Regions from separate parts of the Homo sapiens genome. Here region 1 is linked to region 2. Evidence: fine-mapped expression QTL. A gene starts in region 2. The other region holds a variant in brackets. All regions are shown on one strand. Distances are from middle to middle. Region 1 has its middle 38 kb from the start of LINC01234. Region 2 holds the start of RBM19 (RNA binding motif protein 19).

Region 1 (5,378 bases), 160 kb after region 2:
CCTCAACACCTCAGTGATTTGAAAAACACTGACCTAGGCCTGGCGCGGTGGCTTACGCCTGTAATCCCAGCACTTTGGGAGGCCAAGGTGGGTCATCGCAAAGTCAGGAGATGGAGACCATCCTGGCTAACATGGTGAAACCCCATCTCTACTAAAAATATAAAAAATTAGCCGGGCATGGTGGCACGTGCCTGTAGTCCCAGCTACTCGGGAGGCTGAGGCAGGAGAATCACTTGAACCCGGGAGGTAGAGGTTGCAGTGAGCCGAGATCGTGCCACTGCTCTCCAGCCTGGACAACAGAGTGAGACTCCATCTCGAAAAAAAATATATTGAACTAAAAAATGTCTCCCAAAGCACAGAGCACGGACCTCTGTGCTTCAGGAGATGGTTTAGGTGGCCCACACACTTTTCTTTTTAATTTTTAACTCACAAGTTTATTTTCACATGTATGCCACAAATACAAACCTGTATTTGTTTAGGTCATCAAACCTATGGTGTTGCTAAGCTCTAAGGAATACCGGTGAATTCGTATAAAGAAAAGTATTAAAAACATGAATTTCGTGAGGCAAAGTAGTAAAGAAGCGACGTGAATGATCAAAATCAGGGGTTGGCAAACCATGGCCCTCTTTTTTTTTTTTTTTTTTTGTGCTGCTGTTGCCTGGTTTTGTGAATAAAGTTTTATTGGAATACAGCCATGCCCATTAGTTTACATATTGTCAATAGTTGCTGCATGTAACAGAGTTGAGTAGCAACAGAGACCTTATGACCTGCAAAGCCTAAAATATTTACCATCTGGCCCTTTGCATCAAGTGCAGTGACCCCGATCTAAAGCAAACCCCCATCATTTTACAGATTAGAAAGCCCAGAGTGTCTTCTACAAGGTCACACTGTGGCAGAATTCCCCGTTCCGGCTCTTTCACCTCTGCTATGCTGCCTCGGCACATGTGCTGAGTAAAACTTTATTGACAAGACCAGGCAACAGTAGCAGGAAAAAGAAAAACGAGCTGTGGTTTGGCGACCCCTGATTTCAATCATTCATACCCCTTCTTTACTACTTTGCCACTTAGCCACAATGTGACCTTGAGCAACCTCCTTGACCTCTCTGTGCCTGTGTTCTCACCTGTGAACCGAGAACAGGACAGACTCCTGCAGATGCCAGGATGAAGTGAAGGCTGAGAATGGCGCCGGCCCCACATGAGCACTACACAAGCCTCAGCTGTTGTTACCCCATCCCCCCAACATAAAGGCAGTGTCCTTCTGCACCCCGACAGGCTTGGGCCATCACCCGCTGCCCAGGAGGCCAGGGTATTTCAGCACAAGCCCCGGGCCAAGGCCTTCTGGATCGTCAGCAAAGTAAAAGGGGCCCTGCAATCTAATTATAGCATTGCTAGAAGCCAGGGCCGCATTCCCCTCCAGCTTCCTTAATAAGCCCCACTTCCCCATAATTGCAGATTTCATGGAAGCGGTCCACTGGGGCCACCATGTCCCATCCTTGGGCTTAGGCCAATAGCAGACATTTTGTTGTGCAGATTTCTGGATAGCAGCTGCTCCTGCCTTTCCTGGAAACTGTCAGGAGCCCTCCCTTCTCCTGGTCCCCAAAAAGATTCCAGGCGATAACATCGCTGCCACCTTGTACACCTGCAGTTTACAAAGCACTTTCGCAGGTGGGAGCTGAGTCACTAGGCAGGGGCTGTCACTGCCATGGCACAGATGAGGAAACTGAGGCTCCAGGAAAGGAGGGGAGCAGCCCGTGGCCGATGTTCCAGAAAGAAGGCAGTCCCTTTTCCCAGGCTGTGGCTCCACAGTCAAAGACCCTCCTCTCCTTCCCCTCTGGCTTTGTGGAAGAGGACAGGAAGCTGGATATGTGGCAGTCCGTGCAAGGGATAGCAGGAAACACTGCGTCCCATGAACGATTCTCAGACTGCATTCCCCAGAGATGCTGAGATGTGGGGCTGAGGAGTCCGGCACCCTTAACCCCTCCACCTCCCAGGATTTTATATTCCTAGGCTCAATTGCCCAACCCTCATAGTGTAAGCATCTCACTGCAGTCTTTGTGAGCTGCGAGGTATTTTGTGAACCCTGAACACAAGTCAACAACTTCACCCAATGCTCAACCAAAGAACAGCAGCTGCCCCAGTGCTGGGGGACAGCCTGCTGTGTTCGCCTCCCAGAGCAACAGTGTATATAGGTCAGGGAATGTGTTGGTTCCTGTGACAGACCCAGACATTAGTGGGCTTAAATGAGATGGAGGTGGATTTCTGTCACATGACAGTTGGAAGGTGAACAGGCCTGGTCTGACAGCAGCAGGGGCCCAGCCCCTCTGAACTGTCACTCTGACACGCCTCCATGGCCCAGACAGCACCCCGCTGTGCTGCCATCACCCAGTCACTGGGAGTGGGGAGGAAAAAGAGGGCTTGCCCTGCCCTTCAAGGACACAGCCTGTGCATTCTCATGTCACTTTGACCAGAATATGGTCACCTGGTTGAGCCTAGCTGCAAGAGATGCTGGGAAATGGTCTTTCTCTTGGGCAGCCATATGCTCCCCAAAACATACAGCCCCTCCTTCTACAGGAAGCGGGAAAACAAATGCTGGGGGCAGCCAGCAGCCTCAGCCACTGATCGTTGGGTGCTGCCTGGGGTCTTCCCAGGGCATTTTCAAGGTCAATTTGACTGTCCTTGATTTCCACCTTTTGAGCTGACGTTAGAACCTAACCCCACATAAGCATTGTTTAAAGACTCATGTATCACAGCCGTAAAAAAGAA[T/C]GAGTTCATGTCCTTTGCAGGGACATGGATGAAGCTGGAAACCAGCATTCTCAGCCAAATAACACAGGAACAGAAAACCAAACACCACATGTTCTCACTCATAAGTGGGAGTTGACCAATGAGGACACATGGACACAGGGAAGGGAACATCACACACCGGGACCTGTTGGGGGTGGAGGGCTAAGGGAGGGATAGCATTAGGAGAAATACCTAATGTAGATGGTGGGTTGATGGGTGCAGCAAACCACCATGGCACATGTATGCCTATGTGACAAACCTGCACTTTCTGCATATGTATCCCAGAACTTAAAGTATTTTAAAGAAAAAAGAAAAAGACTCATGAATCTAATGTGTTCATCAGATTTTTGGGGTTTTTTTTTTTCTTTTTTCTTTTTTTTTTTTTTTTGAGACAGGGTCTTGCTGTGTCACCCAGGCCGGAGTGCAGTAGTGTGATCATGGCTTACTGCAGCCTCAACCTCCCAGGCTCAAGTCATCCTCTTGCCTCAGCCTTCTGAGTAGCTGGGACTACAGGCATGCACCACCATGCTCGGCTAATTTTTTAATTTTTTTTAGGGAAGGGGTCTCCCTATGTTGCCCAGGCTGGCCTCAAACTCCTGGGCTCAAGCAGTCCTCCTGCCGTGGCTTCCCAAAGTTCTGGCATTACAGGTGTGAGCCACTATGCCTGGCCTCATCACATTCTTAAACCAAGAAAAGTTAACCCACTTTTCTTAACCCACTGTGTTAGACACTAGTGCTGGTTGTCAGTGAAAAACTCCAAAGTAACATGTGGATCTTGTTGCTTACACATTAAGACAAAATGCCAATTTTGGGGGCTGGGGGAATAAGGCATCAAGTTTGCCCCATGTGTAGATTCACTCGTGTCTGACCAAGTGCACCCTCGGAGTGTTACCTACACAGAGGCTGGCTTTTCCCTAACGTCCTTCTTTTCCGCAGATCTTCAGAAAGGCTTTCTCTGATAGGGCAGTATGTTAATTCCTGTGATTGCTGTAACAAAATACCTCAAACTGGGGGGCTTAAAGCAACAGAAAGTTGTGCTCTCACAGTTCCGGAGTCCACAGGTCTGAAATCCAGGTGTGGGCAGGGCCGTGCTCCCTCCGAAGGCTCTAGGGGAGGATCCTTGCTCAACTTATTTTTGAGACAGTCTTGCTCCCTCACCCACGCTGGAGTGCAATGGCACGATCTCGGCTCGCTGAAACCTCTGCCTCCCGAGTAGCTGAGATTACAGGTGCCCGCCACCACGCCCAACTAATTTTTGTATTTTTAGTAGAGACAAGGTTTCACCATTGGCCAGGCTGATCTTGAACTCCTGGCCTCAGGTGATCCACCCGCCTCAGCTTCCCAAAGTGTTGGGATTACAGGCCTGAGCCACCACGCCCAGCCTGCCTTTCTTTTCTGAGGACAGTTGGCACCTATAATCTCATCTCAAGATCGTTAGTTATATGTACAAAGACCCTTTTTTCCCAAATAAGGTCATATTTACAGGTTCCAGGTGGACGTATATTTTGGGGGAGGTCACCATTCAACCCTCTGCAGACCATCTGAGTCCCCTTTCCTTGCTCTACAAGCATTTAATGAGCACCTCCTATTGGCCAGCCCTGAACTGGCGGCCAGGGATCCAGCAATCAACACAACAGGATCAGCCAGGCCCGGTGACTCATGCCTATAATCCCAGCACTTTGAGAGGCTGAGGCGGGCAGATCACTTGAGGTCAGGAGTTTGAGACCAGCTTGGCCAACATGGTGAAACCCCATCTCTACTAAAATACATAACTTAGCTGGGTGCTGTGGCTCACGCCTGTAATCCCAGCAGTTTGGGAGGTTGAGGCGGGTGGATCACTTGAGGTCAGGAGTTCAAGACCAGTCTAGCCAACATGGCAAAACCCCGTCTCTACTAAAAATACAAAAAATGAGCTGGGCATTTTTTGTATGAGGCGGGCGCCTGTAGTCCCAGCTACTCAGGAGGCACGAGAATCACTTGAGCCCGGGAGGTGGAGGTTGCAATGAGCTGAGATGGCACCACTGCACTCCAGCCTGGGCGACAGAGCGAGACTCTGCCTCAAAAACAAACAAACATACAACACAGTAGGCTCACTGCTGCTGTGAAAGTTCACAGTCTGTTGGGAGATGGCTAAGTAACAGGTGGTCATGGTGCCAAAGGAGAAGTGGGGCAGGTGTCCAAAGGAAGGGTGGGGAGGGCTTCCCAAAAGACGTGGCTTCTAAACTGTGTCCCAGGAGGTGAGTAGGGGTTACCCTGAGAGGTGGACTTACCCTGAGGGCAGCAGAGAGCCCCTGAAGGTCCAAGAGCAGGAGAGCAGCCATGCCCAGCTGCCTGTGAAGCTGCCACCTCCTCTCCCTCCACACCCTGACACTCAGGGACACGCCCCCGCAGCCCACACTCCCAGGAAAAGCATTCCTCTAGCGGACCTTCTGGTTACTTTTATAGATAACCTTGTGGCCGGCCCTCCACCACCTCTGCAGAAACAACACCCTCACCCCACGAAGCCCGACCTGTTCTCTCCCTGGCTGACTTTGAAGCCGTGGTTGTAGCAGAGTGGGTAGGTTCTGATGATGGGTAGAGAAGGCAGAGGCCAGAGCG
Region 2 (5,378 bases):
CTTCTGGTGGCTCCAGGTCTTCGTTGACTTGTGACTGCATCACTCCAGACTCTACCTCCACCTACACATGACGTTCTCTGTGTGTCCTTTAAAAGGACATGTGTCATTGGATTTAGGGTCTACCAGGATAATTCAGGATGATCTCATTTTGAGACCCTTAAGTACATTTGCAAAGACCCTTGATATGGTTTGGCTGTGTCCCCACCAAATCTCATCTTGAATTGTAGCTCCCATAATCCCCACGTGTCCTGGGAGGGACCCAGTGGGAGATAATTGAATTATGGGGGTGGTTTCCCCATACTGTTTTCGTGGTAGTGAATAAGTCTCACGAGATCTGATGGTTTTATAAGGGGAAAGCCTTTCACTTGGTTCTCATTCTCTCTTTGCCTGCCACCAGGTAAGACATCCCTTGCTCTTCCACCATGATTGTGAGGCCTCCCCAGCCATGTGGAACTGTGAGTCCATTAAATCTCTTTCCTTTATAAATTACCCAGTCTCAGGTATGTCTTCATTAGCAGCGTGAGAACAAACTAATACAACACTTTTTTGCAAATAAAGTCACATTTACAGCTTCCAGGGGTCAGGATGCCCCCAGTGTGTGTGGTGGTGAGGGGACAGGGGATCATTCATCCCACTACACTGCCCACCCTTCTGTAAATAGCTTTTTGTCCAGATTTGCTTTTGTTAAATCCTTTTGAGTATACCTCTGTGTCCTGCTGACTGATGCATTTCCTTCAAAAACATTTATAGCTACATACCTACCGTTTTTTAACAACTGCATAGAATTCTGTTGAATGGACAGACCTTAATTTACAATTAGCATTTAATGAACTCCTATTACCTGTCTCCTCCTGGTGCCCAGTGTGATGCTTTGCAAAGATGGATCTAAGGATGCCCCTATGGCAACATAATGTAGAAAGAACAAGTGGCCTCATCTATAACTCTGAACCTACACTGTGCGCTCCTCACCAGCGAGTTCTGTAGGTTTATGCTGTGGCAGATGCATGAGCTCCCTGCATTTGGGGCTCAGTAGGAAAGAGGCATATTCGAGGATGCCATGTTTGAGCTGGTCTTAGAGAGGGGATGGGAATGGGTTCAGAAAGATATTCCAGTGGCCAAAAGCACATGAAAGATGCTGTTTCATTAGTTATCGGGGAAATGCAAATCAAAACATTGAGTCACCACTGTACACCCACTAGAGTGGCTATGATTATAAAGACCCAATAACAAACACTGGAGGAGATGTGGAGATATTTGAACCTTCATATACCGCTGGTAGGAATATAAAATGGGGAAGCCACTTTGGATAACAGGTTAGCAGGTTCTAAAAAGGTTAAGCATAGAGTTACCATATGATCAGGCAATCCTACTCCTAGGAATATATCCAAGAGAAATAAGAACATATGCCCACACAGGAACTTACAGGTAAATGTTCACGGCAAGATTATTCACAGTAGCCACAAAGCGGAAACAACCCAAATGTCCATCATCAACTGATGAATAAATAAAATGTAATACATCCATATATGTAATACTATTCAGCAAAAAAAGTGTGGTGGCTCACGTCTGTAATCCCAGCACTTTGAAAGTTCAAGGCAGGTGGATTGCTTGAGCCCAGGAGTTCAAGACCAGCCTGGGCAACATGTTGAAACCTCGCCTCTACCAAAAAATTACCAAAAAAAAAAAATTAGCCAGGCATGGTGGCATGTGCCTGTAGTCCCAGCTGCTCAGGAGGCTGAGGTGGGAGGATGGCTTGAGCCTGGGAGGCGGAGGTTGCAGTGAGCTGAGATTGTGCCACTGCACTCCAGTCGGGGTGACAGAGCCCGACCCTGTCTCAAATAAATAAACAGATAAATAAAGTGCTGATTCATGCTGCAACATGGAAGAACTTTGAAAACATTATGCTAAGTGAAAGAAGTCAATTACAAAAGACTACATATTGTATTATTCCATTTACATGAAATGTCCATAACAGACAAATCCATAGAGACGGAAAGTAGATTAGTGGTTATCAGAGGGAAGGGAGAGGGAGGAATTGGAAGGTTATAGCTAAAGGGTGTGGTGTTTCTTTGGGGGTAATGAAAATGTCCTAGCATTGATTGTGGTGATGGCTGCACACCTCTGTAAATATAGTCAGCACCATTGAATTGTGCACTTTAAGTGGGTGAATTGCATGGTTTGTGATAAAGCTGTTAACAATAAGAAGGGGGGACGGAATGTCTTTTAGGTGAAGGAAATTGCAGAAGCTTGGCAGCAACGTCCAGTGCAGCTGAGGCACTGTGGGGAAACAGAAAGGAAATACCGTCATTTAAGAGTGAAAATAGGGGTTTTCATAGGATGTCTCCATCCAAGAGTAGGTACCGAGAATGCTCAGAGAAGCAATAGGAAAATAACATCCCTTTCACGTTCTCACCTCCTTAACCCCTAGCATAATAAAGAATTATTCCCATTTTATAGAAGTAGACACAAAGGCTCAGAGGCCATTTTGGCCAAGATCTCTCAGCTAGAAGATTGGCCAGCTGAGAGTTCCAAACATTAGGAAGGGAGGCAAAATGCTTGTGGGGCTGGGGTTGAAGGCGTAGAGACTCATTGTAGGGCCCTAGGCAGTCCCTAGCTCGAATCTGACTTTCCAATTCATAGTTATAAGACTTTGAGCAAGCTGCTTTACACGCACGATTCCCAGTTTATCTGCCTGCAAAATGAGAGCGTTTATTTCCAACATGTTCATTCCAAGTATTTACACAAAAGGCTCAATACTTGATTTGTGTTGGCTGGCAATCTCTCTAAACTTCACTTTCCCCATTTCTACGAGGAAGGCAAGGGTCCCTAATCTTGCCCCCGTTCTCAGGGGAGTCCTAAGGCTCAATAATAAAAATAAAATAAGAAAAAGGAGAGAACGCGATTGCCCGGTTGGCGCGACCCTTAACACCGAGCTAAACCGGCGCATGTTAGGGACCGGCGCCCCCTGCCGCCTTCTCCGCTGCATTGGCGTCTCACAGAATCCGCCCAAGGCCCTGCGCCTGCGCAAAATGCAAGCGCCCAGGCCCACCCCTTGTGGGGTGTGACCTCCCTGAGTAGTTTTGGATTAGCCACGCCTACTTCCGGACAGGTCAGGCCAAGGTCTCAGCCACGTGACTGTGTTCCGGCTCGGTAAAGATGGCGGCGCCCAGGGCGGTAGCGTGAAACTTGGTGGAAGACGCTGACCAGTCGTGTTGGAATCAAAACAGCGGGGACCCTGCGCCATGTCGCGACTGATCGTGAAGAATCTCCCGAATGGGGTGAGTGCAGAGGCAGGACTTGGGAATCTGAAATGAGACCAGCCGGGAGCTGTGAGGTAGGGAAGAGATGCCTGGAGGTGATCGAAGAATTTTTGCTCTGGGGCAGGACTCCGGGCCAATTCTGAACTCAAAGGGGGCGGGATCCTGGGCTTATCCCCATTTGATCCCGAGGAAAGAGGAATAGTGACTGCTTACGGTTTCACGGCCGGTTGTTTGGTACCTGACTCCTAACACACCTCTTCTCGGGGAGATGACAACTCCCACCTTGTGGCGAATACCCTGCTCCCACAACCTCTTTCATTCGATCACTGTTTTTTAGTTGTTGACCCGGGACATGGTCCGACACTGTATTTATATTCCTCTCCCAGTCTGGAAACTGTTGGGGAAGACATGGGGAATATTAATCTGCGGACCTGCGTTCCAATTCCCACTCCCATCCTTAGGGCAAGTAGGAATACGGAGTGGGTAAAGGGCTTTACAGCATTTATCCAGTAAGTGGGGAGTGGTGACCCAGCCATACTTTTTTGTTTCCCTGGAGCCCAGCGCAGAACCCGACACGTGGTAGGCAAAATAGGTGAATGTACGTAATATTAGATGATTAGATGCGGTGGGCTCGAATGGATCATCCTTTTTTCTCTCTCTCGCTGTTTTTTGTTCTGTTTTGTTTTTTTGTTTTTAAATGGATTACTGCTCCTTCCATCAGGTTAGACAGTGTCTCTTGATGCCTCGCTTTGTGGGATGAGGATTTTTAGCGTAGCTGCACTTCCTTTCCCTCCCAAATTCAGCTTTGTTGTGTTTCAAGTGTAGTTGATTCTCTTATCATTGTTTGTCTTATCTCTTTTTTTTCTCTCTCTTTCATGGCTTTTTTTGGTTTTGTTTTTTGTTTTTTTCTTTTTTTGTTTTTTTTTTTTAAACGGAGTCTGGCTCTGTCTCCCAGGCTGGACTGCGGTGGAGCAATCTCGGCAGTCTCGGCTCACTGCAACTTTTGCCTCCCGGGTTCTAGCGATGCTCCTGCCTCAGCCTCCCAAGTAGCTGGGACTACAGACACGCGCCACCAAGCCCGACTAATTTTTTTATTTTTAGTAGAGACATGGGGTTTCGCCATGTTGGACAAGTTGGTCTCGAACTCCTGACCTCAGGTGATCCACCGCCTCGGCCTCCCAAAGTGCTGGGATTACAGGCGTGAGCCACTGCACCTGGCCCCCATTTCTGTTCTAATGTTGTGAGTTTTTTCCTTTCCTTTTTTTTTTTTCATTTGTCAGGTGGGACAAAGGAACTTTGTAACACACAGTTTTCAAAATTCAAACAGTATAGTAGTGTATAACATGAGTAGCAAAGTCTTTGCTCTGTCCTACCTTCCCTCTCTGTCCAGGAGTAACCATCTTCATTGATTTGTTTTTGGGACTCCTCACATGTATCTCTGTATATTTGAGGAGTGTACTTTCCTCCTTTTGACCTGCCTGCCCCAGTGACTATCTGCTAGGCCTCAACTGTGAAAAATAAGGAATTTAGATCATCTGTTCCTCCTCTCCAGTGTCTGTAATATTCTTGTTTTTAATTATCCTGTTATAATCTCTGAGTAGTATACTTAAAAATATCTATTACTCATCCATCCATCAGGTTAGACATGTCTCTTGATGCCTTGCTTTGTGCGATGAGGATTTTTAGCGTGGCTGCACTTCCTTTTCTTCCCAAATTCAGCTTTGTTGCACTTCACAGTGTAGTTGACTCTCTTATCATTGTTTGTCTTATCTCATGAATGAAAGAATAATAAAAACAAGGGCAGTTGCAGCTGACACTTGGAGAGTTTACTGTGTGCCAGGCACTGTTCCAGGTGCTTTAGGTAAAGTAACATTTAATCCTCACCATATCCCTGTGAGGTAAGTTTTATTTTTACGCCCATTTTAAAGGTAAAGAAACCAAGATACAGCGAGGTACAGGGATTTGCCTGAGGTCACACACTGGTGTAATTTATAGAGCAGGGATTGAATTGAGCAATCTTTAGTTTAGGGATTGAATTGAGGAAATAATTAGTAGTGAGTACTTGTGATATTGCTGACACTGTAGATAGAGGTGGATAAGCCTGTGTCCTTATTTTTA

Evidence for each region. PIP is the estimated chance that this variant, and not a neighbour inherited with it, causes the effect.
Region 1: its variant is fine-mapped to the expression of RBM19 in whole blood (TOPMed, PIP 0.95).

The regions. Positions count from the first base shown.
Region 1 is chr12:113,808,679-113,814,056 of GRCh38, reverse strand. No RefSeq gene overlaps it. Among named protein-coding and RNA genes, the nearest start is that of LINC01234, 38 kb to the right of the region's middle. The variant T/C (reference allele first, on the strand shown) is at 2,763.
Region 2 is chr12:113,964,092-113,969,469 of GRCh38, reverse strand. It overlaps RBM19 (RNA binding motif protein 19), which reads left to right and starts at 3,145. Exons shown (of 24, transcript NM_016196.4): 1 at 3,145-3,278. The coding sequence starts at 3,243. RefSeq lists enhancers at 2,839-2,908, 2,867-3,794, 3,795-4,723.